Linked DNA regions of Homo sapiens. The protein of the gene in region 4 purifies or fractionates together with the protein of the main gene of each other region. This does not show direct contact. Each region holds a gene or a part of one and is shown on either strand. Other genes may lie near its edges. The genes, in order: OAS1, NPEPL1, CSTF1 and NDRG3.

Evidence for each region.
Region 1: the proteins of NDRG3 (region 4) and OAS1 purify together in Homo sapiens (co-immunoprecipitation; one large-scale study listed by IntAct). This does not show direct contact.
Region 2: the proteins of NDRG3 (region 4) and NPEPL1 fractionate together in Homo sapiens (co-fractionation; one large-scale study listed by BioGRID). This does not show direct contact.
Region 3: the proteins of NDRG3 (region 4) and CSTF1 fractionate together in Homo sapiens (co-fractionation; one large-scale study listed by BioGRID). This does not show direct contact.

Annotation. Positions count from the first base shown.
Region 1 is NC_000012.12:112,916,548-112,923,636, reverse strand, and holds the end of OAS1 (2'-5'-oligoadenylate synthase 1), read right to left. Parts: coding exon 6,899-7,089; intron 6,091-6,898; coding exon 5,937-6,090; coding exon of another isoform or gene 5,880-5,936; exon of another isoform or gene 5,041-5,879; coding exon of another isoform or gene 4,924-5,040; exon of another isoform or gene 4,249-4,923; coding exon 4,084-4,248; coding exon of another isoform or gene 3,944-4,083; 3' UTR 3,734-3,943; downstream 1-3,733.
Region 2 is NC_000020.11:58,703,888-58,711,034, reverse strand, and holds part of NPEPL1 (probable aminopeptidase NPEPL1), read right to left. Parts: intron 5,538-7,147; exon of another isoform or gene 5,466-5,537; intron 3,913-5,465; coding exon 3,835-3,912; intron 1-3,834. UniProt on the Homo sapiens protein: Probably catalyzes the removal of unsubstituted N-terminal amino acids from various peptides.
Region 3 is NC_000020.11:56,400,321-56,408,185, reverse strand, and holds the end of CSTF1 (cleavage stimulation factor subunit 1), read right to left. Parts: intron 4,719-7,865; coding exon 4,459-4,718; 3' UTR 1,824-4,458; downstream 1-1,823. UniProt on the Homo sapiens protein: One of the multiple factors required for polyadenylation and 3'-end cleavage of mammalian pre-mRNAs. May be responsible for the interaction of CSTF with other factors to form a stable complex on the pre-mRNA.
Region 4 is NC_000020.11:36,650,074-36,657,220, forward strand, and holds the end of NDRG3 (protein NDRG3), read right to left. Parts: intron 6,460-7,147; coding exon 6,424-6,459; intron 6,339-6,423; coding exon 6,287-6,338; intron 4,767-6,286; coding exon of another isoform or gene 4,728-4,766; intron 3,629-4,727; coding exon 3,447-3,628; 3' UTR 1,698-3,446; downstream 1-1,697.

The DNA.
Region 1 (7,089 bases), on a different chromosome or scaffold from region 4:
CAAACCATACATCTAATAAGGGTTAATCTCCACAATATGTAAGGAACTCCTACCACTCACTAGCAAAAAAATTAATAACTTGATTTAAAAATGGGCTAAGGATAGGAATAGATCTTTCTCCAAAGAAGACACACAAATGGATAACAGGTCTATGAAAATATACTCAATATCACTAATTATCAGAGAAGTGCAAATCAAAATCACGATGCAATATCACCTTACTCCTGGTAGGATGGCTATCATTTTTTAAAGAATGAACAAAAGATAACAAGTGTGAGGATGTGGAGGGATGGGAACTCTTGCACACTGTTGGTGAGCCACTGTGAAAAACAGTATGGAGGTTCCTCAAAAAATTAAAAATGGAACTACGATATGTTCCAGCAATCCCACTTCTGAGTATCCAAAAGAATTGAAATCAGGATATCAAAGAGATAACTGCATTCCCATGTTTACTGCAGCACTATTCACAATAATCAAGTGGAAACAACCAAAGCAACTATAAATGGATAAATTCGTTAAAGAAAATTAATGTATACAGTGCACACAGTTAATGTATACAGTGCACACATTTAATGTATACAGTGCACATACAGCCTTTAAAAATAAGAAAATGTGTGTGGGAATGGTAGCTGTGATCCCAGCACTTTGAGTGGCCAAGGAGGAAAGATTGTTTGAGGCCAGGAGTTCAAGACCAGCCTGGACAACACAGCAAGACCCCATCTCTACAAAAAAATTTAAAAATTAGCCAGGCATGTTGGCACACAACTGAAGTCCCATTTACTTGTGAAGCCGAGGTTTTCCCTGACTCCTAGGATGGCTCCTAGAAATGCAGAAAAGTATGAAATTCCAGAATTGCTGTGGAGCTGATGGAAGAAGGTATTAAGAGGCCAAGGGAAATGGGCACAGTGAAGAGGAGTGGATATGTTTACTATGTAAGTCTGGAAATAGAGTCCCAGGGGACAAAACATTCCCCGAGGCCATAAGGAATGTGTGGAGAGAGGGACACCTGCATCATGAGGTGTTCTGGTGGTGGCCTCCTGGGAAGAGGGGCTGTTACAGAGCTTGGATTGATAAGGGCAATAGGGCAGGCAGGACTCCCAGAGCAATAGAAGCCAGGTGGGTGCAATGACTATAATGAATGGTGAGGTTGGAGGGGCAGCCAGGGGTCGTGACTGATACAGGGTTAGGGACCTGGTTAACACAATGTGGCCTCTTAGTGACTTAGTGGATGAGTATCTTGAAAGGGCACTACTCAATTTATACCATTAGAAGAAATCAAGGCCGGACGACCAGGGGGTTAAGGGGAGCCATTCCAATAAAAAGTCATCATCCCTTCCTGATTTTTGGAACTGACCAACCCAGTTTTCAGACTAGACCCCATTAACAAAGAGGAGGCAGAGTCCCCTTGGGAAAGGATGCTGTGACACCATAGCATATATAGTAATGGTTTCCCCCAAAGGACCTATGGCCATTTATTCAGAGGATGATACACTGGAAAAGGGGAGTCACTCAACATTTCTAAGACTGTTGGGCAGAGGATCAACACTGATAACGAAAAGCGTCATCAGATTCTGTCCCCATCAGAGTAGGGGCATATAGGAGCCAAGAGTGAAAAATGGAGCCCTGGCCAAGTCAGGCTTGTCATTTGCCCACTGTGTCTATGGACCGACCTGGTGATCATTTCCCTGTCCCCTGAATGTATATTCAAAAAGGACATGCTTGGTAAAAGACACTACCCGACATTGGCCTGAGGGTTAAGTGAGGGCTATCACAGTGAGGAAGGTCATGGGGATACCTTTGAAACTGCCACCTCCCTGGCCAGGATAGTAAATTAAAACCACTATTACATCTCAGAGCCAGGGAAGTACAGAAATTAGCACCCTTTTATTAAGTCCTAAAGGGCTCTGCAGCTGGTATAGGCTGTGGTGCAAGTCGCCCCTCTACTTGGCCCACACCAGCCTGGCAGACCCCATGGTGTTCAAAGTGTTAGTCATGGGAAAAGGTGTCATTCAGAGATTATGGCAATATCTATTTAGAGAATTATAACACAGACCCCTCCAGGACTCTGGAGTAAGCCCATGTCATTTGCAGCAAAAATGTCTATGCCCTTTGAAAAACAATCCCGGTATACTCCTGGGTCCTGTTGTAGATGGAAGGCTGATCACGTGGCCATGTGGCTCTTCGATCAAGCAACTAATTACTGATTCCATTAATCTACTGTTGGTTGTGGCATTGCTATAAAATGAAACACTCTCAAAAGGCAACACAAGTGCATTTTCCACACAGTAAAATACAATGAAGCCATTACATTGGGATGTCCACACTTGCCTATCAGCATGGAGTGTGTGATGATTGATTTTATGTGACAAGTTGACTGGGCTAAGGGTGCCAAGATAGCTGGTGAAACATCATTTCTAGGTGTATCTGTGAGGGTTTTTCTGAAAGAGATTCACATTTGAATCAGTAGACTGGCATCATCTAATCCAGTCTACAAATAGGACAAAAAGACCGAGGAAGGGTGAATCTGTGCTCAGGTTGAGCTGGGACATTCATCTTTCCCTGCCCCTGGACATTGATGCTTCTGGTTCTCATGGCGCCAGAGTAGGAAAACATAAGCTTTCAATGAATGAGGACACATTAAGACCATGCTACAGTGATTAAGAACATGAGCTTTAGAGAGAGAAGGATTAGGGTTCAAGTTCAGACTCTGCCCCTGACCAGCTGGGTGACCCTGGGCAAGCACTGTAACCTCTTAGAACCTCAAGTTATTCCACTTAATATTATGAGAATAACAACAAAACCCATCTCACAGGGATGTGGGGGGACTAAATGGAAGAATATAATCTGGACGGACCAAAGGCTGCTTACCAGCCACCAAAAGTGACCAGCAACTCAGGTGATCAGAGCATGCTAGGTTCTTTTGTGAGTATTTATGAGAGTTTTATATTTTAGAGTCTTATGAATGATATGTTGATTCTTGGTCCCAAGGACAGTGTGACAATGTGGCAATGTAAGTCAGTATAGTCGAATCTTTAATCCAGTGATTTACCTTGGAGGACAGAGCTGTCCAATAGAAATACATAATATAACACAAGCCACATGTATGATTTCACATTTTCTAGTAGCCACAATTAAAAAGGGAAAAGAAAGAGATGAAGTTCATTTGATTTAACTCAAATATATTTAAAAATTGTCATTTCAGCACACAATTAAAAAAATTATCAGTTGGCAAGAACTTGGCATTCTTTTCATTTGTACTAAGTCTTTGAAACCAAGTATATACCTTGCACTCACAGCACATGTAGATTTAGACTAGCTACATTTTAAGCATTTGATACATGTGGCTAGTGGCTGCTGTGTCACACAGGGAGGTTCTATAATTTTTCTCAGAGATATGGAGAAAGGATAAATCAAGGATGCTTATTTCAGAATTATTAGTAATAGGAAAACCATCTAACATTAAGATGTTTTGCACAAATGTCAACTCCATGAGGACAGGGATTTTTTTATTTAAAAAATTCTGGAAGTCTTGGCTCTGCAGGGTCATGAGGACAGGGATTTCTGTCTGCTTTTGTGCATTGCTATATTCCCAGTGCCCAGAGCTATGCTTGGCACATAGTAAGTGCTCAATAAATATTTCTTGTTGAATCAATGTATATACACACACAATACCCCTAGATATGCATCTGTACTTCTTGGCTCTGTGCCTTGAAGTTAATAAACACCCAATAAATGGTATTTGCTTTATTTTTATTGTTATTGATAATACATTAGACATTACCCTCCCATCAGGTGCACAGAAGAAAGTCAAGGCTGGAATTTCATTCTCTTATCTAAATCTCTCTGTTCTCTCTCAGGGAATATTTTCAGAGAATAGGTGGAATGAAGTGAGGCTGTGGAGAATGTTATCTATGATAGGATAGAGGGCATAGAAGGCCAGGAGTCAGGAGACCTGGGTTCTGTCCTGGATTATACACCAGCTCACTGAGGAGCTTTGTCCTCTCTGGATCAAGAGTCCCACCTGAAAATGAAGGAACTGGTCCAGATAACACTGGAGCCCTTTCCCCCAAGATGCACTGGCATTCAGAGGATGGTGCAGGTCCAGTCCTCTTCTGCCTGTGGGGTGGATGCTGCCTGGAGTGTGCTGGGTCTATGAGAGAAATGAGGGTACTCATGTGTTCCAATGTAACCATATTTCTGATACCTCCTGGGATCGTCGGTCTCATCGTCTGCACTGTTGCTTTCAGCCTGAAAGGGTGAGACACATGATCACATCAGGGAGTCTTCCTGCATTGCAGCTGGATTCAGTGAGCATTTACGGTAGACACTGTGACATGCCATCTGGATCCCCCTTTGAGGAAGGACTAACAAGCCCCAGCTGCTGGGACAGTGGTCAGCAGACAGACTTCAGCCGTCAGCCCTTTTAGGGGTTGCCTCAGCTGCAGAGAGCCTTTTGCTCAAAGCCATGCCCTTTCCCAAGGTGCCCAAGCACAGTGAGTGATCCACGTAGGGGTATAGAAGCCTGGCCACCTCTGTCACCATGGGGCAGCTCTAAAGGCCATTCCAGCTCCAGGGCTGTCCTTGGAGTTGGCTGAAACTGGCATTCGCTCTGCATCCCTGTTCACTTCTCCCTATTCTCTTTCATGCTTCCTTCCTATCCTTTCTTCCCCCCTTTCCCTGAGTGCTGGTTCCAGTGGCTCTCCCCCAGAACATCCTGCATACTAAATTCCATCCTGGAGTCTGCTTCCTAGCCATCTGCAACATCATCAATCCCCTGGAATCAGACAGATTCCTGCTTGGAGGTGGAAAGATCCAAGACTGGGTCCTTTGCCCCTGTTTAGCTGTGTGACAACCCAAGTCACTCAGCTGCTCAGAGTCTCCCATTGGTCAGATGAGAGGTGGGGATGTGACAAGGCAGGCTGTTTAGCACAGTGACATGAGCACTGGCTTTAGAGTCCACTGAGCTTGAATTCCATTTCCACCACTTGTTAGCTGATGTCCTTGAGCAAGTGACCTCACCTCTCTGAGCCTTTGTCTCATCTGTAAGATGGGAATGATAGAAAACATGCCTCATGGGACTTTTCAAATAACTAAAAGTAGAATGTCCATTCAACCCAGCAATCCCACTACTCGGTATCTACCCAAAGGTAAAGAAATCATTCTATCAAAAGACACCGGCACTCGTATGTTTATCGCAGTACGATTCACAATAGCAAAGTCATGGAATCAACTTAAGTGCCCATCAGTGTGAACTGGATAAAGAAAGTGTGGTATATCTACACCATGGAGTATTATGCAGCCATAAGAAAGAATGAAATCATGGTTGCAGCTGGAGGCCATTATCCGAAGTGAATTAACCCAGAAACAGAAAATCAAATACTTAACATCTGCTAAAGATGGGAACAATAGACACTAGGGACTCCAACAGGGAGGAGGAAGGGAGAAAGGCAAAGGTTGAAAAAATTCTTTTTGGGTACTCTGTTCACTATTTGGGCGACAGGATCAATAGAGGCCCAAACCCCACCATTACACAATATAGCTGTGTAACAAATGGCACATGTGCCCTCTGAATCTAAAATAATAAAAAATTTTTAAAAATGCCTCATGGGATTGTTGTGACTATTTAATGAGAGAGTGCATATTAAAGGGCTTAGGACAGAACCTGAGCCCGAAGCAGACAGTCAATAAATGGTGTTAGAGATTATTTATTATTACTCTTAGGGGAATGAATTCTGGACAAGGGATGTGAAAATTCCAGAAACCCTCGATTGTGACCAAAATGACTGTAAAATATGGAGCACAGCCTGTCACTATATGAATATAAATGGCCTTTGGCAAGAGGTAAGTTCTTTGGAAAGAATGGTCTCCAGCTATATGTCTCAAGCTTCATGGAGAGGGGCAGGGATGAATGGCAGGGAGGAAGCAGGAGGTCTCACCAGCAGAATCCAGGAGCTCACTGGGGACCCATCCCAATTCTTAAAGCATGGGTAATTCAGCCAGGCCTCAGCCTCTTGTGCCAGCTGCCTCCAACCCTTTGGGTCTCCACCACCCAAGTTTCCTGTAGGGTCCGCCGGGTCCAGGATCACAGGCCTGCAGAGCAGCATTTAGAGAGGGACAGGTGAGAAGCTGGGGCTCTGTCTAGGGAGTCCAGATGCTCCTGGGAGAGCAAAATAGCAGCATGGGATGAACTGGGACTCAGAACATGAGGAAGGGCTCCCTGGGGTATGTCCCCAGTGCCCTATTCCCCAGCAGGCAGTGAGCATGAGGAGAAGGAGCCTTGCACTTGCACCTGACAGATGTGGGTTTGAATCCCACCTCTGCCCTTTATCAGTGATGTGCCCTTGGGTAGGTCACTTGAACTCTCTAAGCCTCAGGATTCTTATCTGTAAAATGGGAATAGTTCCACATACCTATCTCAAAGGCTATGCTGTGAGGATAGAAAAAGCCCAGTTATATGAAATGCTCAGCACAGCGACTAGAACATAACATACATATCAGTAATATTGCTAATAATTTTTACTATTATATTAGCATGTGTTAGTCTTACAACAAGCTTTCAATACCTGGGAGCAATTACTATCATTGTTGTTGCTGCTGTTCTTATTTCAGTTCAAACTGCAGCTATTTTACTCATTTTCTGTTAAGGGTTGGACAAGCTCCTTACCTCTCAGAACCTCAGTTTACTCACCTGTAAAATAATTGGCATAGTGCCTGCCTCACAGGGTTGGAGGTAGGTGTTTAAAACAGATGGCAGTAGTAAAATGCCCAGTACAATGATGGGCAACAGGAGATTCTCACTAAGTGGGGAGCCCTCCCACCTCCTCCATTTCCAAGGCACTGTACCTGTATCCAGGTGTTCATTTACATAGGGGAGCTAAGCCATGTGGGGATAGCATACCTGGGTTTCGTGAGCTGCCTTCTCAGGTACTTTTCAATAATGGGGTTTTTAAAGTCATAATACTTTGTCCAGTAGATGCAGAGTTGCTGGTAGTTTATGACTAATTCCAAGACCGTCCGAAATCCCTGGGCTGTGTTGAAATGTGTTTTCATGCTCCCTCGCTCCCAAGCATAGACCGTCAGGAGCTCCAG
Region 2 (7,147 bases), about 22 Mb from region 4:
TTTCAGCCTCCCAGGGAGGGCTGCTACCCGCTGAAGGCTGGGCCCTGCCCCTAATTTCTGATCCAGCAGGTCTGGGGCAGAGCTGAGAACCCATATTACTAACAACATGGGGACCCCACTTGAGAAGTGCTGGCTTAGAAGACGAGCGAGCTGCAGTCCTGGGGCAAACAGTGCTGAGGTCTGCACGGCTGGAAGACGTGAGACAGAGACAGCACAGGCACGGCCCTGCCCTTGCGGCCCTCACGGCCAGTCTGGAGGTGTTCTCCAATCACCAGGAGCGGCTGAAAAAATCCAAGACTCAGCAGAGCTGGAGGTGAGCCCTGGAGCTGTCAATGTTCACACACTTCCTGGGTGTTACCTGGCACAGTTGGGACTTGCTGGTCTAACAGAAGAGGGTGGCCAAAGATGGGGCTGGACTGTGAGTGCTTCAGCGACAGCGTGGGAAGGGTCTCCAGTGCTACGCCAGGGCTTGGGCCTGGTCCCCCAGGGCGGCCAAGGGTTTTGGGTTGGTAAGTGGGTCAGGGGCTTTTTTTTTTGGTGCCAGGCTTGGAGGGTCGCTAACACCCCCAGAGCCCAGGGCCACCGAGCTCCTGGCGTACCCTTCCATCTTTGAATGGTACATCCTCTTTCTAAAAAGTTCAAAACATTTCACTGTGAAATAATTTCAAACTTACAAAAAAATTGCAGAAATAGTCACAAACAGCCAGGAGCAGTGGCCCATGCCAGAATCCCAGCACTTTGGGAGGCTGAGGTGGGCGGATCACTTGAGGTCAGGAGTTCAAGACCAGCCTGGCCAACAAGGTGAAACCCTGTCTCTACTAAAAATACAAAAATTAGCCAAGGGTGGTGGCACATGCCTGTAATCTCAGCTACTCTGGAGGCTGAGGCAGGAGAATCACTTAAACCTGGGAGGCGTTGCAGTGAGCCGAGATCGCACCACTGCACACCAGCCTGGGCAACAGAGCAAGACACCATCTCGGGGAAAAAAAAAAAAAAAAAAAAGCCACAAACAATTCCTCAACACCCTTCACCCAGATTCTGCCAATGTCAGCATCTTGTCCAGCCATGGGACAATGGGCAGCAGGGGGTAGTAATCACCAACACAGGACCATCACCTCTCGGGACCATCCAGATTCCATGTGCTCCTCAGACGTCCAGATCAGATCAGACCACACATCAAGCCTGGCCTGCTTGCCCTCCTTAATCTGGGCGACTGCATAGTCTGGCTTTGTCTTTTGTGGCCTTGGCACTTTCAGTGCTGGGTTTGTCTGACGTGTCCTTGTGACTACAGGCAGGCCATGCATTTTTGGTGGGAATCCTGCAGAAATGCTCTGTCCTTCCCTGTACACTGCCTCTGGAGGCATGTCAGGTGGCTCTGTCCCTGCCCTGGTGACATGCCCTGGGACACCTGGTTAGGCTGGGTTGTGAGTGTCACCACTATAAAGCTGCGAGAGGCACTCTGAGAGCATTTGACTGTCCTCTTCCCATCCCACTCTCATGCTCCAGTTCCAGCACTGTGGGCCACTCTCACCTGGAATGAAGCCTGGCTGTGGGGTGACGACTTCCTGTTTCCATCACTACCTCTGCAGCCTGAAACTGGGATTCAGTGTGAGAAACGGTTCTCCCCCATTCATTTATTCCTTCAGTGATCTATTCCTACCAGTGTGGACACGTGGATGCTGATTTTATTCTCTGGGTAAATGCATTACCCTGAGGATTGATTCTGTGGCTCAGACAGAGGCGTATTCCTTTCTAAGAGGCCAACAAGGATATGTGAAGGCCAAGCAGGACATTCGCGTTCACAGTGGAGCCTCCAGGCTGGAGCTCTTGTGGGAGGGGGATCTTTGTCCAGAGTGGGGGTGGGGTGTCCTCAGCACCCCTCAAATCTAGAGGTGCTCCTCCACCTCTAGAGGCCGCAGCACCTCTAGAGGTGGAGGAGTGCTGAGAACACTCACGGCTGCTGCCTGATGAATCTGTGATCATTTGTCAAGTGGCTTCCTGTGAACAGGGAATTCAAGCTCAGAAGAGTCTTCCTGCTGGGGCATTCCCAGCCAGCCTGTCCCAGAGGCAGGACAGACCCTCTGTTGGAGGAGTAACCAGGGGTGAACGGCAAAGACGGCCACAGAGGGCTGGCCACACGGCTCCTCCAGAACCACTTGCCCACCCCTGCCCCCGTGCCACCCCAGAGCAGCAACTGCTCCCTTCAGAGAGAGCTGCCCAGCGAGCACCGCACAGCTGGGCCCGTCCGCCTCAGCATTCTTCTGGTGAGCCCATCTGCCAAAGCCACGGGGCCTGGGCAGAGGCAAGGAGGAGGGCCAGGTAGTGGGAGCCCAGAGCCACCCTGCCCCGTGGCCTATGATGCTGGGGCAGTCAAGACCCTCCTTGAGTGCCAGCCGTGTCCCTTGGTAGTTTATAACCAGTGAAGGAGTAGCGCACAGAGGACACATGCTCCTCCTCCAGCCTCTTCCGACAGGCTCTGCAGTGGACGGGCCACGGCAGGTGCTCATGGAGGCATGGGGCTTGCAGGCTGCGTACAGCCCCAGCTGTGTGCTCAGCACGAGAGAAACAGCCGTGAGCCCTAAGAGGCCGTTTCCAAACCCGTGCAGAGCACAGGTGAGGGCCTGCCAGCCCCTCCTGCCCAGGCCGCCTCAGCCCCGCACCTCCGTGTCCCCACCGGCTGGGCCTGGTAGCAGAAGCCCGTCACACAGTCTGGAATGTGCACGGCCAGCTGGGAAGCCCCGGCAGAAGGAGCTCCTTCCTCCTGGGATTCCTCCTCCTCCCTCACGGCCAGGAGCAGGACCCTCCAGATTGGAAACTACTTGCCAAGGCCTTTTTGTTTTTCCATTTCAAGTTTACCCCAAGGAACTGGGTTGCTGGCCTGAGAAAGGTAGGCTAGGAAGGTAAAACCTCGGCTGATGAGTCAATGCACACTCCTCATTGGCCTGTTTCTTTAGACAGGGTCTCGCTCTATCTCCCAGGCTGCAGTGCAGCAGTGGGATCTTAGCTCACTGCAGCCTCAACCTCCCGGGCTCAATCGATCCTCCGCCACCTCAGCCTCCCAAGTAGCTGAGACTACAGGTGCGCGCCACCACGCCTGGCTAGTTTTTAAATTTTTTTTTATAGAAACGGGGTCTTGCAAGGTTGCTATGGGTAGTCTTGAATTTCTGGCTTTCAAGCCATCCTCCTGCCTCCGCCTCCCAAAGTTCTGGGATTACCAGCATGAGCTGGCCTCTTCATTTGTTTAATAAGCACTTTTTATGGCCCCAGGGACATCTGGGCTCCATGGGAAGGTCACTCAAGGTCACCCCCCACCCCCCCCACGCCCCCCGAGTGACTACTGCCACTGAGCAAGGGCTAAGCATTGGGGCACCTGCCCACGCAAGAGAGGAAGGGGGCCTGGCCAGGCCTGGGGGTTGGAGGTGGTGACTTGGTGAGACCAGTCACCAGAGGCAGCTCTGCTGCAAAGAAGGGTTGCGGGAGGGGTACGCAGAACAACGTGTGCCCCTGCCATGAGCTTCTGCCTGCCACATGCCATGAGGGTCTAGGCCAGGCTTCCTCATTGAGCCAACCGCTCATGGGGCTCTGGAGCCAAGGCAGGCCCTGAGCAGAGAACATGGCTGCACCTTGCCCTCGGGGCCTCCCAGAGCAGCTCTGATGAAGGCGGGAAGCTCTGGGGGCCCCAGAAGAGCCTGGGGGCAGAGGGGGGACAAGCATCCGCTGGGGAGACTCGGGTAGGACCCTGGTGGGGCCTGTGGCGGGACGGACAGGGGAGAGGGGAGCACCCACGAGGCACACCCAGGATGCCCCTGCAGAGGGCGGGCAGGGCCCACTCACCTGCTTGATTGCGGCTCTGAAGGCCCCCAGGACGGCCGCAGCACCCCCGCAGTCTCGCTTCATCCCCGGCATGGTAGTCTGCGGGTGGTACAAAGGGACCAGGACAAAGGTGAGCTGTGAGGTCCAGGCCTGGCAGCGGAAGCCCCCCACCCCCACCCGGCCCCACGCTAGCCCCACCTTCCCCAGCTCTCAGGCCTGGGCAGCCCCCACACCAGGCCTCCTGGGCACCCACAGAACTCATGAACCTCATATTGGCCAAGTGGGGTGTTCTCCAGAAGCAACAGGGAGTCATGGCCATAGATGGTGAGGCTCCCTTTTGTTTTGACAGAACTTTGGGGTTATCAAACAGTAACTGCACGGAGGGGGAACCCGAGGAGATGCCCGGAGCTGCAGAATTCGCTGTGGCCGGGCTCTGACATTGAAACAGGGACCCCGTGCTTTGACGCCGGGCACCCTGACCTCAGTCCCGGGCTGCCACGCCGCCTGGGGGTCTGTCTGCAGGGCCACTCTCTCCACTCCTCCGCACAGCGTGAGAAGGAAGCTGAGGTCCAGGGAGCCTCTGGGGCTTGCTGGAGGTCCCTGGCCAGCACCTCAGGGACCTGGGTGGGCTTGCGTGCTTCCTGCACCCATTGCAGATTCCTAGTGTGCTTATGGCAGGGAGGAAGCCTGAGGGGCTGCTGCCGCAATGCAAACCTGCCCTGGCCACCTGTCGCCCCCCAGAACAGGGCCTAGCTTCCTCTCCCTGGCACTTAGAGGGCTTTACCACCTAACGAGACTTAGGCTCAGCATTCTCTGCCCCTCATCACAACCTTGAATGATGGTGAGGGTTGATGTGAACTCTTCGCCAAAATCAGTCACATCCACCCCCACTGACACCACCAGCAGTGAGGACACCTGTCGCTCCTTCATGTCACTGCCAGGTCTATCGCCAGAAGAAGGGGCCACCTCTGCCCTCCTGCTAGTTCACACCTCCTGGTTAATAGTTCACACCTCCTGGTTAACCTGGGTCTAAAGAGGGGCCACCCTTCTCCTGCAGTGTCCACACTGTTTCCTATACGCTGGTTGACAGTGTTACACATTTTTACATTTTACAGGTTCCCAAATCAAATTCACAAGTTCATATTTTAAATTAACAGCAGGTCCTCAGAGGTAAAGGTTTGGGTATGAAATTTACTGAATCATTTTTGAACCCTTATCTTATTACACAAGCTTTGAATTTTAGTGCAAAGTATTTTTAGATGTAAATTGAGCTGCTTTTATAATTGAGTGAAAATGACCCATCTTGTACTACTGAAAATAAGCCATCTCTTCTGAGCTAATCTGTTTGAGAAAGCACAGGATTGTTTAAATGGAAAAACAGGGCCTCCGATCTGGAATCAAACCATGTGCAAAATGGGTCACACAGCAATGCCTGGAAACGGCTGCTCACTGTACACCATGTCTCCCCCGTCACAGCTGCCAGCTCCTTCCCAATTGCAGGTGGAGCCAGGACTGGGCTTGCAAATACAGCTCAACTGATTGATTGTGCAAAGTTTCACCAGCCCCCATATGTTGTTTCTGTTTTTATAGAAGAAACCATTTTCGCAGTGATTTAAGACGGTCTCTGCCTTTTTCACGGGGCTGACACTTACACCCCCTGTGCTGGAGTATCAGGCCACAGTCCCAAAGAGGTCCGGGAGCCACTGTATTCGTTTCCGTGCCCTCTGGGAAAATGAACCAATGCCAATTTCACGTTAGAATTTCCTTGCTGAAGCAGTAAAATTAATTTTTAAAACTCTCAACCCTTGGGTACAATACATTTTCCATATTCCGTGTGACTCATAATGTACTCCTGCTGTTGCTGACGGGCAGTGGTCGGTCAGAGCAGAAGCTCAGCTGTGATTGCTGGGGGAGTTCTGAGCTCCATGAGCCACTCTGGCCACGACACCATCTTTACTTGAAAGAAAAACTGACAGACAAATGGCATTTAATTGGATTTAGGTATCTGGCAGATATTTCCCAGAAAAGGAACAAACTGAGCCTCTTACTTCCAGAAACAGCTGACATTATTTATTGCCAATGGTATACATTTGAGCTTTTAAGCAAAAATCAGAATTTTGAAAAACTTTCTCCTATCACCATGACAACTTCCTCATAATGAGTTTTCTGATGAGATGGATGGTGATATTAAGTGATTTTTTGATACTATATAATGTAATGTGTCAAAAATTTGAATTTCTGCAGAACTCTGTGAACCAACATTTTTCAAGTGAACATTCATTTTTCCATGAAAAACCACATGTTCAAAGTGAGAGAGAACAGCGGATTTAACTGCCACAGAGCCCAAAAGTCTATTCATGAGGCTTCAGATTCCATGTTATAACCAGCCTTTAAGAAGCTACCACTTGTTGAGTTTTGGTGTAGTAGCAAAGAATGTTCATAGTTAGTTAGCTGAAAAAGGTACTAAAATCCTTTTCCCTGTTTCAACTATAAAATGCGTGAGGCCAGATTTTCTTGATACAGTTCAACTGAAACAACACATTTCCATAGACTACATCGGAAGCAGACGCAAGGTCCCTAGCTGTCTTCTATTAAGCCAGACACTGACAGGATTTGTGAAAATGTACAACAATGCTACTCTCTCAGTAAATTATTTTTTCATTTTGGAAGATGCTTATCTTCATAAAATTATTTATGATAACATGCAATGGATTTATATGTTATTTTTAATGAATTATACATGTTATAAATTTCTCACTTTTAATTTCCAGTAGAGTAAATATCAATAGACATTGTTATACAAAAAGCCTCTTTGGGGTCGGTACTTGTTAAGAGCGTAAAGGGGTCTCCAGTAATGCATTTGAGGCCTGCTAGTCCAGGCTGGTCTTGAGCTGCCCTTGAAATCTTTGAAAATGGAGCTGTGATTTTTTTTTTCTTGCAAAACTGGGAGCTGGGCTGGCTCCAGCCGGCTTGCTTTTTGAGGAGTGACCATTTCTGCACCATTTGCTCTACAGGCAGCCACTGGGGAGAATGCCTGCTGCGTTGCGTCTGCGTTTCACACCAGGCCGTTGGGGAGAGATTGTGAGCGCCTTCAGGTCAGGATTGGGGTCTTTGCATCAATGGCTGGAGCCTCAGCGCCCACTCCACACAGTAACAGCTCAGGAAAGGCCTGCTGGTTGATCCCAAATCCACGTAGAACGGTTCCAACTGCAGCGGGGAAGATGGGCTGGTTTAAAATAAAAAACCAGGTATTGTTTCACTGGTGCCAGAACACCCAGCTCTTCCTGGTATTATGGGGTCTGCAGACCAGGTGGACCCCGGGAATAGGCAGGGG
Region 3 (7,865 bases), about 20 Mb from region 4:
CTCGCTCTGTTGCCCAAGCTGCAGTGCAGTGGCTTGATCCTGGCTCACTGCAACCTCCATCTCCCTGGCTCAAGCGATTCTCATGCCTCAGCTTCCTGAGTAGCTGGGACTACAAGTGTGCGCCACTACACCCGGCTAATATTTTTGTATTTTTGGTAGAGATGAGGTTTTGCCCTATTGCCCAGGCTGGTCTCGAACTCCTGACCTCAAGCCATCTCACAGCCTCGGCCTTCCAAAGTGTGGAATTCCAGGCGTGAGCCACCACGCCCGCCCCTTGGTCCCATTTTAGTTACTGTTTTAGTTCTCTGAATTTAATCTGTGTCTGGTAATTCCACTAGGTCCTTGCAAGTCTGATTATGTTATTTTTGCTGATTCTTATCAGGGTGGCTTGTTTCCTCACGTACCTGACTGTGAGTTCATGATCCTCAGAGGTTTATCTGGGATAGAGGGAGGACTGGGGTTAAGACGTGTTCTTGCACAGAAAATTCGTGCTGGCCTCTGCCAGATACTTGTGGCCACCATCAGTTGGAGACTGCTTTAAGATCCCCATTTGATTTTCTCTGAGCAGTACAGGTAGCGTAAATTGTTCCAAACCTGCATGAGGAACAGTGCGTGGACCGAATTCTCAGGAGACCCTCCCTTGTGCCAACACCAGACACCCTCTCTCCGAAAACCCCTGAGCCAGCACCAAGCAGGCAGATTTCTCGTCTTTCTCTGAGGCAGGTTTTTGTCAAGTTCATCCTTTTACTGAAGGGGCACCTTTGGGGTTCCAGGCTTTCTGGGTCTTGACCAAAGTTCCTCCTCCATGAAGACTCAGAGCTTTGACTTCTGCTCAGAGATGAGTAGGTTACAGGAACTGACCTACTCAGTGCTCCAGCACTGCGAATCCTCTGGATTTGTGCTTTGTTCTGCCCCTCAGGAATTCCTTCTTTCTTGCTGTCTCAGCTAACTATTAGAGATTTAAAAAAAGTTCTATCCAGGTTTGAATTGAAAGGGCTCTGGAAATATCTGGTTTGTTACCTTTTTAGAAACAGATGTCTCCCGCTTAGGAACAATGGCTTCCTCCCTCCCTGAAGTCTGTTTGTATCATCAGGCATGAAAACAAAGAGCTTTACAGGTTGAAGTGCATGCTGGAGATTTTTTTCATTAAGCCCTTTAATCGCAGAAAAGGAAGCTGTATCCCAGAAAAATGACTTGCCCTATTACTTACCAAGTCAGTAACAGAGCTGAGACTGGACTCTCTCACATTGCTCTTCCTAAGGAAAACCAAAGTGTAAGCAAAGATAGCGTTCTCTGAATAAGCCAAAAAACTGAATTATACTCAAGTTCTTTAACTTCACAGAGAGCGGCCGGGCACGGTGGCTCACGTCTGTAATCCCAGCACTTTGGGAGGCCAAGGTGGGCAGATCAGAAGGTCAGGAGTTCAAGACCAGCCTGGCCAACATGGCGAAACCCTGTCTCTCCTAAAGATAGAAAAAATTAGCCAGGCATGGTGGCACGCGCCTGTAATCTCAGCTACTCAGGGGGCTAAGGCAGGAGAATCGCTTGAACCTGGGAGGCGGAGGTTGCGGTGAACCGAGATCGCGCCATTGCACTCCAGCCTGGGCGGCAGGGTGAGAATTCGTTTCAAAAAAAGAAAAATTCATAGAGAGCAGAGGAGCAAAGATAAAGAGCTAAAGGTGATCCAGCTATAAAAACCTGACTTCTGGAACAAAGCACTAAAGAAAGGGTGAACAGTACCAAAGTCATAACTGCTGTTTGAGAACAGATGTTCAAATGTGGGAAATGTTCAAAGTAAGTTCCAAAAAAAATAAACTAGCTTATCATTGTATATAAAGTTTATTTCAGAAATCACGTATCTTAAAAAAAAAAAACACACAGAGGGTATAAGTTCGTATCCTGACCAGATATTCATTATTTGAATGGCAGAGTGTTGTGTGGTACAATTAACGAGATGCAGATACTAAGTCCATATAATATTCCTGGCATTTACACCAGGCTCACAACACTGTGACCTTTAAAAAGCAAAAAAACCAAAAACCAACCAACCAAACAAACACAAAAAAAACAAACCCACAAAAAATGAAAAAACAGCTACTTCTGAAACACATAAAAGTATCTTGATCTTTTAAAAACAGGTCCTGAAACTACAGATCCATTGCTGAGACTACTCGAAAAACTGTAAAACATGGGCATTATTTTAATTCGTGAACAACTGAAAAGATTCAATGGAGTGCCATGTGGTCATTTTAGTATGTGAGTCAAAGCAGAATAATAGGGAAACATTAAATCTCTCCTTTACAGTTTAAGAGGTTGAAAGCAAAAGGAAAGTCTGAAAAAAGAACAGGGGAGGTTTGGTTGGTAATGTTTTTGGTAGAACTGGTTATCCTTGTTCGTATTTAGTAGGTGCCTTTTAGTCTTACGAGAGTAGCACCCACAGATGGCCAAGTTCAAATATCAAAGAATCAGAATGCAAAGTACAACTGGAAATTCACACTGGAATTCAACTGGAAATATGCATCAAAAAATATGGCTCTTTGGAAATCTGAGCTAAAACCCTGTGATGTAACATGTTAAGATGCTTAAGACAGTTTTACAGATCAAGGAGTTAAAACGATCCTCAAGGATGACTAAAACAGAATGTTTACGCAATAACTTCAGTAACTTCGTATGATGGGGCCGCGCGTGGTGGCTCACGCCTGTAATCCTAGCACTTTGGGAGGCTGAGGCGGGCGGATTACCTGAGGTTGGGAGTTCGAGACCAGCCTGACCAACATGGAGAAACCCCGTCTCTACTAAAAAAAATACAAAATTAGCCGGGCATGGTGGCGCACGCCTGTAATCCTAGTTACTCGGGAGCCTGAGGCAGGAGAATCGTTTGAACCCAGGTGGCGGAGGCTGCGGTGAGCCGAGATCGCGCCATTGCACTAAAGCCTGGGGGACAAGAGCGAAACTCCGTCTCAAAAACAAAACAAACAAAACAAAACAAAACAAAACTTCCTATAATATAAAGCAATGACTTTTACTTCAATCTATTTACTATTTTTATCAAATGATCCCAGATTATATTTCTAGGTACTCCTATGCAGATCATAAGGTATTTGTTTTTTGGGATAAATATAAAGCAAAGTTTATGTTTGTACAAGGGGAGTTCAGAGTTCTCTGACTCTGCTAGTGCTGAATCCAGAGAAGTACTGTCATGTTCTAAAAAGCTTCAGGAAGGCTGGGCGCGGTGGCTCACGCCTGTAATCCCAAAACTTTGGGAGGCTGAGGCAGGCGGATCACGAGGTCAGGAGATAGAGACCATCCTGGCTAACATGGTGAAACCCTGGCTCTACTAAAAATACAAAAAAAAAAAAAAAAAAAAAAAAAATTAGCCGGGCGTGGTGGTGGGTGCCTGTAGTCCCAGCTACTTGGGAGGCTGAGGCAGGAAAATGGTGTGAAACCAGGAGGCGGAGCTTGCAGTGAGCTGAGATCACGCCACTGCACTCCAACCTGGGTGACAGAGCAAGACTGTGCCTCAATTAAAAAAAAAAAAATTCAAGAAAAAGAAAACTTGTATCAATTGGTTAACTGCATAAATCTTCTGAGAATGCAGTTACTATGTGCCTCCATGATGAGAAGTTAGTTCATGCTGACGAGAACTGAAGACTTAAAACCACCTAAGAAAGAGGTCAATCGATACTAATCATTCGTGAAGACAGGCAACACCTGAGAGCAATAGCAGGCTGACCTAATTTAATTAGATCGGATATATTTTCAATTGTTTCTCATGAAATCATAATCTTACCAGAAATACAGTTACTAAAGACAAGTATTGCAGATATTGAAGGATAATGTAGGGAGTATGTTGAAAGATACTGTTCCTATAAATTGTCAGGAAAAACTGGCCATTAATTTTACAGAAGTGAAAAATATATAACAATAAAGTTGCAGATCTGAGCTTTATTATCAGAATAACATCATTTCAGGATAGAATTGAGGGATTCTTGAAAATGCTTTTGATAATGGCATAAAACTCAGGAGTCTCAGAGCTGCATGCCTGCTTATCTGTTCAAATATACCTGGAAGGGAAATACACAGAGGGTTCAGCAGAATAAGCAAGAAAGTTGACAGAAGAACCAAATGAAAATTCCTCATGTCAAAAGCACTTTAATGCCCTATCCTCCTTCAATCAAGAGATCAAAAGAAACGGCAAGTCCTGTACTTACAAAACCGATGAAAATCACACTGTAATAATCAGTGAATGTAGAACTGCACAGATCTGTGTTTCCAACTTTTTCCACCATGATTCTACATCAAGGTAAAAAAAGATTCTTTTATACAAATCCAAGAAGAATGTGGACAGAGGTGGCAGCAAAACGTCAAGGATGGTGCACGGACTTACGACTGCAGCTGAGACAGGACGTGGGGGAGGAGGGTAGAGTCCTCGAGAAAGAACCCTACGGAGAGGGTGGCTCAGTCAGTGGTCGATCTCCGGTACCAAAACCGCGCTCTGAAGTCATCGCTGCACGTCATGAACCCGGGGTTGGTGGGGGAGTGCACTATGCAGCGTACAATATTGTTGTGCCCCAACGACAGCAGGTTTCTCCGCTCGGCTGTCCTCGAGTCCCAGCAGCAAAGACTGATCGTCCTCTCGTCGGGCAGCAACACATAGTCCTCGGTGTGGTTAAACACAGCCTGTGTCCGGTGCACCTGGCGTCCACTTAAACCCGCGCCTGCCACAGAGAGCAAGAGGGATAGCTTTCTAAGTCCACATCTTAGACCCTCAGAACGTTCTAGCATTCAATGTAAAAGCATTTTAAACCTGTTGCAGTGATACACCTTGTACACTTTCAGAAACTCTAAAAAAGTACAAAAAAGAAAATCAAACCAGGCACAGTGGCTCACGTCTGTAATCCCAGTACTTTGGGAGGCTGAGGAAGGAGGGCTGCTTGAGCCCAGGAGTTCAAGACCAGTCTGGGCAACAGGCAACAGAGCAAGAGCAAGACTGCATCAGGAAAAAAAAAAAGGAGATCACCAGATCACCTGAAGCAATACTGTTACTGTCCTAATGTACTTTGAGGCATAAAAAAACACATTTTAAAAATACATATAAAATTGTTGCCACTATATTTTTCTATTATAGTTTTAACCAACTTTATGCTGAGTACATTTTTCCATGTTTTTTACTAGATGCAAAGTGCCTCATGTTTAGAAGCCCCATTACTTATTTAACAATTCTTTTGTGTGTGATCTTTTTTTTTTTTTTTTAGACAGAGTCTCACTCTGTCGCCAGGCTGGAGTGCAGTGGCGTGATCTCGGCTCACTGCAACCTCCGCCTCCTGGGTTCGAGTGATTCTCCCGCCTCAGCCTCCCAAGTAGCTGGGACTACAGGTGGACACCACCACACCCAGCCAATTTTTGTATTTTTAGTAAAGACAGGGTTTCACCAGGTTGGCCAGGATGGTCTTTATCTCCTGACCTTGTGATCCACCTGCTTCGGCCTCCCAAAGTGCTGGGATTACAGGTGTGAGCCACCATGCCCGGCCTGTTTAACAATTCTTTTACTTCCTGACATTTAGTTTATATCAATTATAAGTAATGTTGTAATGAACATCCTTTGTACAGAAAGCTTTATTTCCTTAGGAGTAAATTCCTAGAGACAGAATTACTGAGACAAAGTATATGAATATCTACTTTCCAAAAGGAAGCCTTTTTATGACTATAAATTACATATTTTATGTTTAAAAGTACCAAATAAAGTATAAAAAGGAAAATAAAAACTGCCTAATAATTGCACCCATCAGAGGTAACAGTCAATACTTTGGTGAATACTCTTTCGAAATATCTAAGTGTTATGTGCTCACTTGTAAATTCTCTCTTTTTTTTTTTTTTTTGAGATAGAGTCTTACTCTGTTGCCCAGGCTGGAGTGCAATGGTGTGATCTCGGCTCACTGCAACCTCTGCCTCCTGGGTTCAAGAGATTCTCCTGCCTCAGCCTCCTGAGTAGCTGGGATTACAGGCATGTGCCACCACACTCAACTAATTTTTGTATTTTTAGTAGAGATGGGGTTTCACCATGTTGGCCAGGCTGGTCTCAAACTCCTGACCTCAGATGATCTGCCCACCTTGGCCTCCCAAAGTGCTGGGATAATAGGTGTGAGCCACAGTCCCTGGCTTCATTTGTAACTTCTTTAAGTCAGAGCATTTGTCATATACTATTAATATTCAAGCATATGTAGTGCAGATCTGTAAAGACAGAATACAGCTTAGTGGATAAAAACACAAAGTCTGTGTGGTCAGATGTGGGTTCAACACTAATGTGACCCTGGGCAAATTACTTAACATTCCTCAGCCTTAATTTTCTCATCTGTTCCATGGAGTAGTTACAGAACCTACCCCATAAGGCTGTGAGGATTAAGAATAAGAGAATGCAAAGGAGGCTCTGGAGTGCGAGTGCTCAGCCCATGTTAGCATGCATACTTATTTTTAAAGGTGTATGTTGTCCATGGATGCGTAACAGATTTCCTCAGTGCTTCTTATTGGACATTTATGCTGTTTCTAACTTTCAGCCACTCCAAATGATGTTGGGACACACATCCTTTTATGGGCATGTGCATGTCTGTCCAATTACCTCTTTAGGTTGAATTTCTAAGAGTAGATATAGTGGGTCAAAAAGCGTGTATTTAAAATTTTGATATGACACCAAACTGTGCTGAAATATTTTACCAGCTGACTCTGACCAACAAAATATGATTTCCCGAAATCTCTATCAATAGTAGATAATATAAATCTTTAAGACTCCTGAAATCTGATTAACAAAACCAGGTCCCCATATTCATTTCTTGGGTCTGCAGCAAGGCTGGCCACCTTTTCTTACATTTCCTGACCATTTTTCTCTTCTGCAGCCCCCTGTCCTTTGGCTCCTTTTTTCTCGAGTTTGGACTCATCTTTTTCCCATATGAGTTCTCTTTATAGATTAAGGATGTTAACTCAATGTCTAACATCTGTATATATGCTATAACCATTTTCTCCCAGTCCTGTATGTTATTTATATTGTTTTTAATTTTTTGCATCCCAATTTCTAAAGTTTTGATAGTTTTTCCTTTTTCATCATTTCAAAAACCCTCTGAATTCTAACTAATTATTATTATTATCATTTTTTGAGACGGAGTCTTACTCTGTCGCCCAGGCTGGAGTACAGCAGCGCAATCTCGGCTCACTGCAACCTCCACCTCCCAGGTTCAAGCTATTCTCCTGCCTCAGCCTCCCAAGTAGCTGGGACTACAGGCGCCCGCCACCAAGCCCAGCTAATTTTTGTATTTTTCATAGAGACGGGGTTTCACCATATTGGCCAGGCTGGTCTCAAACTCCTGACCTTGTGATCTGCCCACCTCGGCCTCCCAAAGTGCTGGGATTACAGGTGTGAGCCACCGCGCCTGGCCCAAATTCTAACTAATTATTAAAACTGGGAACAGAAATCTTAACATGCTGACATGACAGGCGCTTGACCTGTGAAATGAGAAAAAAGGAAAAGGGGAATCTGTGCATAAATTCAGCATAATCACATTTTTGAAAAACCACACTGCTATTCCCCACTAAAACAAGCCAATCAACCTCATACTATTATAAAACACCCAAAACATTCCTAGAGCAAATATATAAGCTATTGTCAGTAGGCTGGTGTGTATCTGTCCAGATACAGCACACTCCTTAAAACAGTTATAACTTCTATAGGGGGAGTACTTTCACATTTACCCTGATCACTTTTTTATCTTCTTTTTGCAACAAACACAACTATTATAAAGTAGTTCTTTATAATAAATACTTTTCAGAACAACTTTATACAAGTGTTTCAATGAAGTCACCAAGAATTATGATAA
Region 4 (7,147 bases):
GCGAGACTCCATCTCAGAACAAAACATAACCAAACAAAAAACAAAAAAAAAGGCAACTGAGGCCATCAGATCAGTTCCTTCCCATGTCAGCATTCTGTGGAGCATTGGCCTGCATTGTAAGGCTTCAGCCTGGTAATCTTTATCTGTTCATATGCATTTGTTTCAACTCCTCTGCCAGAATGGGCATGTCTTTTTTTTTTTTTTTTTTGAGACAAGAGTCTTTCTCTGTCGCACAGGCTGGAGTGCAGTAGCGCTATCTCCGCTCTCTGCTAGCTCCGCCTCCCGGGTTCACGCCATTCTCCTGCCTCAGCCTCCTGAGTAGCTAGGACTACAGGTGCCCACCACCACGCCCGACGAATTTTTTGTATTTTTAGTAGAGATGGGGTTTCACTGTGTTAGCCAGGATGGTCTCGATCTCCCGACCTCGTGATCTGCCCACCTCAGCCTCCCAAAGTGCTGGGATTACTGGCGTGAGCCACCGCGCCCGGTGGTTCATGTCATTTTTTACGAGTGCCTGTCACAGATGTAGCAATCCACATGCACTTTTGCTGGCACTTGCCCCGGGTTACTGAAAACTCATCTGAGATGGTGGTCTTCTGAAATTATTCTTTTTTTTTTTTTTTTTTTTTTTTTCTGGAGACGGAGTTTTACTCTTGTTACCCAGGCTGGAATGCAATGGTGCAATCTTGGCTCACTGCAATCTCCACCTCCTGGGTTCAAGCGATTCTCCTGTCTCAGCCTCCCGAGTAGCGGGATTACAGGTGCATGCCACCACGCTCGACTAATTTTTTTTTTTTTTTTTGTATTTTTAGTAGAGACAGGGTTTTATCACATTGGTCAGGCTGGTCTCGAACTCCTGACCTCCAGTGATCCGCCCGCCTTGGCCTCCCAAAGTGCTGGGATTACAGGCGTGAGCCACCATGCCTGGCTTTTTTTTTTTTTTTTTTTTTTGAGACAGTCTCGCTCTGTAGCCCAGGCTAGAGTGCAGTGGTGTGATCTTGGCTCACTGCAAACTCCACCTCCCGGGTTCAAGTGATTCTCCTGCCTCAGCCTTCCAAGTAGCTGGGATTACAGGCACATACCACCATGCCTGGCTAATTTTTGTATTTTTAGTAGAAACAGGGTTTCACCATGTTGGCCAGGCTGGTCTTTAACTCCTGACCTCAGGTGATCCGCCCACCTTGGCCTCCCAGAGTGTTGGGATTACAGGCGTGAGCCACTGCACTCGGTCTGAAATTATTCTTGATGGGTACAAATATAGCCATTTCTGGAGAAACACAAGCTGGTCTCTTAGAAGACAAGTGGTTGCAGATTATTAAAATGAGAGGTGGAACCCAGCAATCCCACACAGGTGGTGGAGCTGTGACGTGGACCACCTTCTCAAGACCTCAGCTTCTCCTCCTCCATCACAAACAACACTGTCAGGCTTCTCACGATTTTTGGCTTGAGGGAAATACAGACACATCAGATAGAATTCTGCATAATTCCCTGGGATTTGATCCTGGCTGGACTTATTGGCTGCATGACCTTGGGCAAATGATTTATCATCAGTCTTCATTTCCTCCTATAAATGGACAGTGTCGCTTGGTGGATAAGCAATCACATGTGAAAATGGCAACACAGAACCAGCATACAGCAACTCGGTCCTGCCCTGAACCCCAGTGAATGGCTTGAAAGAAATAACACCAGCAATCAGGTAACAATGAGACATATGCAGCTTTATTTAATAATCTGTAAAAAGTCATACTCTGGCAGAGTGATGCATTCCTTATCTCAGCAGAAAGCAAACAGTCTGTCTGAAAAGCCCCTTCCCAAGATTTGGAACTGTGTAACCCTGAGCTTACATCTCAATGCTCCCAAGAGCTGGGCTCTTGCTATGTGGTAGTTGGTCTCCACAATTCTCTCACCCTCCAGCAATACTCTCTGTCTGGCTGTGACTCCCTCACCTAACAGTAGACATGAGGCTGAAAACAACTTTACCTGGACAGGGCTACCCCTACAGATTGGCCCTTTCTCTCCTACAAAAGGGAGTTCATAGGATTAACAATCTTTCTAATGGCTGGGAGCAATGACTCATGCCTGTAATCCCAGCACTTTGGGAGGCTGAGGCAGGTGGATCACCTGAGGTCAGGAGTTTGAGACCAGCCTGGCCAACATGGTGAAACTCCATCTCTACTAAAAATACATAACTTAGCTGGGTATGGTGGCAGGTGCCTGTAGTCTCAGCTACTCGGGAGGCTGAGGCAGGAGAATCGCTTGAACCCAGGGGGCAGAGGTTGCAGTGAGCCAAGTTTGCGCCATTGCACTCCAGCCTGGGTAACAGCGAGACTCTGTCTCAAAAAAAAAAAAAGACTCTGAGAAATGGGTTCTGTATCAATTTAATTTGGCTTCCATTACATCTACTGAAATCAAGGCTATACTTGTTAAACATGATACTGTGTTAATGGCTGTTCCTCTCCCCCCACCCATTTCTCCCCCATCTACATGCTTTTTAGGCCAAACCTCTCCCCTTTCTGGGAACTGAGGAATGGAGACACACTCTCTGTCACAGACCTAAGAGGCACTTCTTGTGGATATGTGGATGTCTGGTATCAGATACTGCAGCGACAGCAGTTTTGCTCTTCAGAGCAGAGGCCTGGCATTTTGTTTCCACCTTCCTGTGCTAAGAGAGTCCAGTAATTAAACCACATTCACTCCTTGGAAAAAACTCTATGTTGTATCAGAACCTCAGCGATGGTTCATGGGCTTCCAGCAGAATATATTCCTCCCTTTTATTTATAGAAGAGTATACAGAAATTCATTTGGACAGAAGGAGCCTCTCTATGTAACAGGCACCCTTCTGCTACTGGTCACAATCAATCAATGGTCCAGACGGCAATTATGATTTTCCACATTCCTCAAAGCTGCTCTCTCCTGAAATCACTTTGCAAATTTTGTTGACCAATTTGCAAACAAAAGAGAATGCAGTGGCCTACCCAACCTAGAAATCTGTTCTGCCTAATTCCCTTAAAAACACCATTGAGAATGCAAAATAAGTCCCTTTTTTGTTTTTTGCAGAAGCACTACAAGAAAGCGTGTCTAAAACCACAGAACTATGCACACACAAACACAGACACGCGTGCTCGCACACACAGAGTCGGGATCAAAGAATCTTATCTGATACATAGTTGGGGGAGCACGGGAAAAAGCTGGCAAGAGAGGATATGGAGAGATCTGATCAGCTAAAGATGTTGGAATGTTACAGTATGGCATGGAAGTGGTTCTTGGGCTATACAAAAAAGGGGGTGGGCAGGCAGAGAGAATGATAAATCCAGGCTACTAGAGAGAGGTTCAGTGGCCATGCATGAGTTAAAGATAGTAGAGGCCAGTTTACTGGATGAAATGTTATATTATGGAGTGGTCATTTGAAGGATGGACTTGCAATGGTCCAGGGGAGGAGCATCTGCTTAGCAGGACACCTCCATGGTCTGGTGTCTGTCCAGGACATCAGGGGACTCACAGGATTCTTGAGTTCCATCTGACTGATTGCTGGTGACAGACCGGCTGAAGGGACTTTCTCCAGAGCCGAGGCTACTCGAGGTTGAGTGGGTTCGTGATCGGGCGAGCCGAGTCATGCTGGCAGATGGTACTGTAACAGAGAACCAAGGGGACTAGAAGATGAAGCCCCGGTTAAGCCCAGCTAACCTAGGAGTCTCATCAAAGTCTTTATGTTTAGCTTTTCCGACTCATTTACCATGACACCCAGGACAAGATATAGCCATCCCCATTTTGTATCATTTGCTCTAGGTGAGTGGCGATATGTGAGGCCACTTTAATCCTTTAGATCTGGTTGGAATCTCAGCTGATTGTAGTCACCGCAGAACAAGGGGAAACCCTAAATCCAGAGTATAGCCTCTTAACTATGCCCACACCATTCAGACAGTGACAGAATGGAGGCTTTGGGAACCCAAACAGGTAACCAAAACCTACAGTGCATGCAAGACTAAACCAAAAGAAAAGAAAGACACACACACAAGTATGAAGGTGTTTCACAAACACAGTGCAAGCCCGATACAACGAGACTACCATCCGTGTCCACAGGCTACCTTGCTACCAGGGAGGAGATTTGTAGGATGGTGCAGGTGAAGGGGAGGGCAGATTGGCTTGGAGCTGACCTCAACACAGGGATGAGGTACAGGTTGCCAGGGACAGAGAAGCAGGTGTTTAACTCAGACTCCTGTTCTGCCACTGCTTGACTCTAAGGTCCTTCCAGCTTGGCTGGGACTGGGCCTTACCTGGCATAGCCTCCCTGCCTATCGTCCTGGGCAGCAGCCACTCCCCTAGCTGTCATTTCAATGCTGGGGTCAAAAGGTGCTATCATCTGCAGAGTTCTCTGGGCACAGGCTCTGACCCTCCTATTTAGAGCCAAGGCTGCCCTTGGATTCCTGTGTCTGGAGGTTAATTCAAGGATCAGTAGGTGGTGGTGGAAGATGGGCCCTGCCTATCAAGTTTCAGCTGCTGCTGTGACCCTGGATTTAGGATGACAAGAGGAGGCCTGCCCCTTACAACCAGATCCTTTCCTCCTCCTGGGGGACCAGGGCTGGACCTGTAGGCTAAATCTCTTGGGGCGTACTGAGCCACGTTCTATCGGGCTCTCACTGCATAGGAAGACCGCGGACATGCTGCAGGCAGCCAGTGCAGCCAGGAGAGACTGGAAGGCGGGGCAGGGCCAGCACAGAGGAAGGTACCTGACTCGGTGCTCAGGTGACTGAGCTGCACATACGGGACTGGAAGCAGGATGGACACAGGAAAAGGCAGGTTAGTGACCCCAGAGTGCCAAGTGGCAACCTCAGCTGCCTGGTAGACACTGACAGAATACTCTAAGCCAGGGATAAAATTTTATTTTAAGGTCCCAGAGAGGAGGTGAGGCTGACAGATACTTCAATAACATCTCAAATGTTACTTTCCTCAACTAGACAAAGGCAATTGTTTTCCCCTCTGCTATAAACAGTCATCTTGCTTTGGATCAGAAGTGGGCTGGAAGATCAGCTATTTCATAGGAAAAGGATAAGAATGGACTAGGAGAGGGCCTCCTGCTCCTCCCAGTGAGCCACAGGGCTGTGGGTGTGGGCTCGGTTGGTAGCGGCTCACAGGCAAGGATGACACAGCCACTTGAGACAAGACATACATGGTCTGCCTGGCAGGTACAGGGCTGCACCCAGGGCCCAGCTGCCCAGAGCAGCTGACCAGACAGCTCGCCAATGACCATTATCCACACTAATACCAAAGACAGGAGAAAAATCACCCTACTGGGTAAAGAGCTCTGTACCTGGGTGAAAGAGTTTTTCTAAAAACTCCAAGAAAGGAGCAAGTGTAGATAATTCTGTGACCATGAAAAAGCTCAGAGGTCTTACAATACAAGAGACCAGGACAATGGCATATGATATGGACACACCCTTGGACTTGCTCTAAAACACTCTCCAAGTTCGTCCCCTGGGGTGGAGGAGACTTTACCAAGGATACTGCCCTTTTCTCCTGGAGTCTCCATTTCATTTCTCTAGGTCAGGAGTTATTAACCAGCTGAGTTTAAATGCAAATCATAATTTCAGATTCACACCTAGGACAGCCTAAGCTGCAGGGGTTCAAAATGTGGGCTCTGGAGTCAGACTGTCAGGGTTTGAATCATGGCCCTGCAGCTGAATTTTTACCCTTGGCAATGTGCTTAGTCTCTTTGAGCCTCAGTTTCTTCTTCTATAAATTGGCACTAATAACAGAATGACTTCTTAGATTAAGAATATATAGGTTGGGCACGGTAGCTCACGCATGTAATCCCAGCACTTTGGGAGGCCAAGGCAGGCAGATCATGAGGTCAAGAGATCAAGACCATCCTGGCCAACATGGTGAATCTCCGTCTCTCCTAAAAATACAAAAATTATTCGGGTGTGGTGGCACATGCCTGTAGTCCCAGCTACTTGGGAGGCTGAGGCAGGAGAATCGCTTGAACCCAGGAGGCGGAGGTTGCAGTGAGCTGAGATCACACCACTGCACTCCAGCCTGGCAACAGAGTGAGACTCTGTCTCAAAAAAAAAAAAAAAAAAAAAAGAATATATATTGCCTGATGAAAGTAAGTGCTGAGTGTTAGCTTACAAATACGGACAAATGAATGTTCCATAAACATTTCAGTTTCTACTTTGCTTAAGGCTAGCTGCCACAGAGGTTATATCTCAAGAATTGTGGGCTCCCAGATGTGAAACTGGCTCCCAATATTCCTAAATCGTTGCTAGATAGAAAGTTGTGTACTACTCACTGTAGCCCATTCCCTGCAAAAAGTACTTGAAGGCCTCGGTGAGCTTCCCAGGCTGGGGGGATAAAACAAGAGGGCATTAATTTTTGCATAGACAGAGAAGCAGAATTAAATGGGTGTTTAAAAAAAATTCTCCTTACCTGAACTACCTGGGGCAGTCCCCCACAGTCCGCCATCTAGAAAAGGAAAAATATGCAAGTCAGCTGGGACTTACCCTTAAGAGAATTGCTCTGAACACCCCAAGTCCTTTCAAACAGAACAAGATTGAATTCTAGGTTTTAATGTTTAACTGCAAGTTTGCATCTCAATGCACCTACGTACAAACATTTATAACCTTGGATGAAAATCTGAAATAATTATTACATACTTATTTATCAATAAGACTGAAGCCCTGACTTTCAGGCCCATGGTGGGAATTTTCTGTTGAGGTGATAGTGAAGTTAACCACTACTCTCAACCATGAAAACCACCTGAAGAAGGTTCCTTTCAGAGCCCTCGAACAGTGTGACCCTAACTTCTCTGTGCATCAAGCTTTCCAAGTCCCATTTCAACTCTACATTATCTTTCCTCCGTGAGTAAGGGCACTCTGCCATCAGGAGCTGATACTGATTCAGCCGGCTTGCTCAGTCAGCCACTTTCCTCTAATAGCTGGGTTTGGTAATGCTGCTTTTCACTTCATAAACATTTACAGCTGGTTATTCTCACGTGTGCAAGGATTTCTAGGGTATGGCTTCATTAGTGTGCCCTGGAATTACCTGAAGGACTTGTTAAAACTCAGATTCTTGGATTCCTATCCCAGAGATTCTGATTTGATAGGTTTGGGGTATGGTTCGAGATTGTGCATTTCTGGCCGCGCGCAGTGGC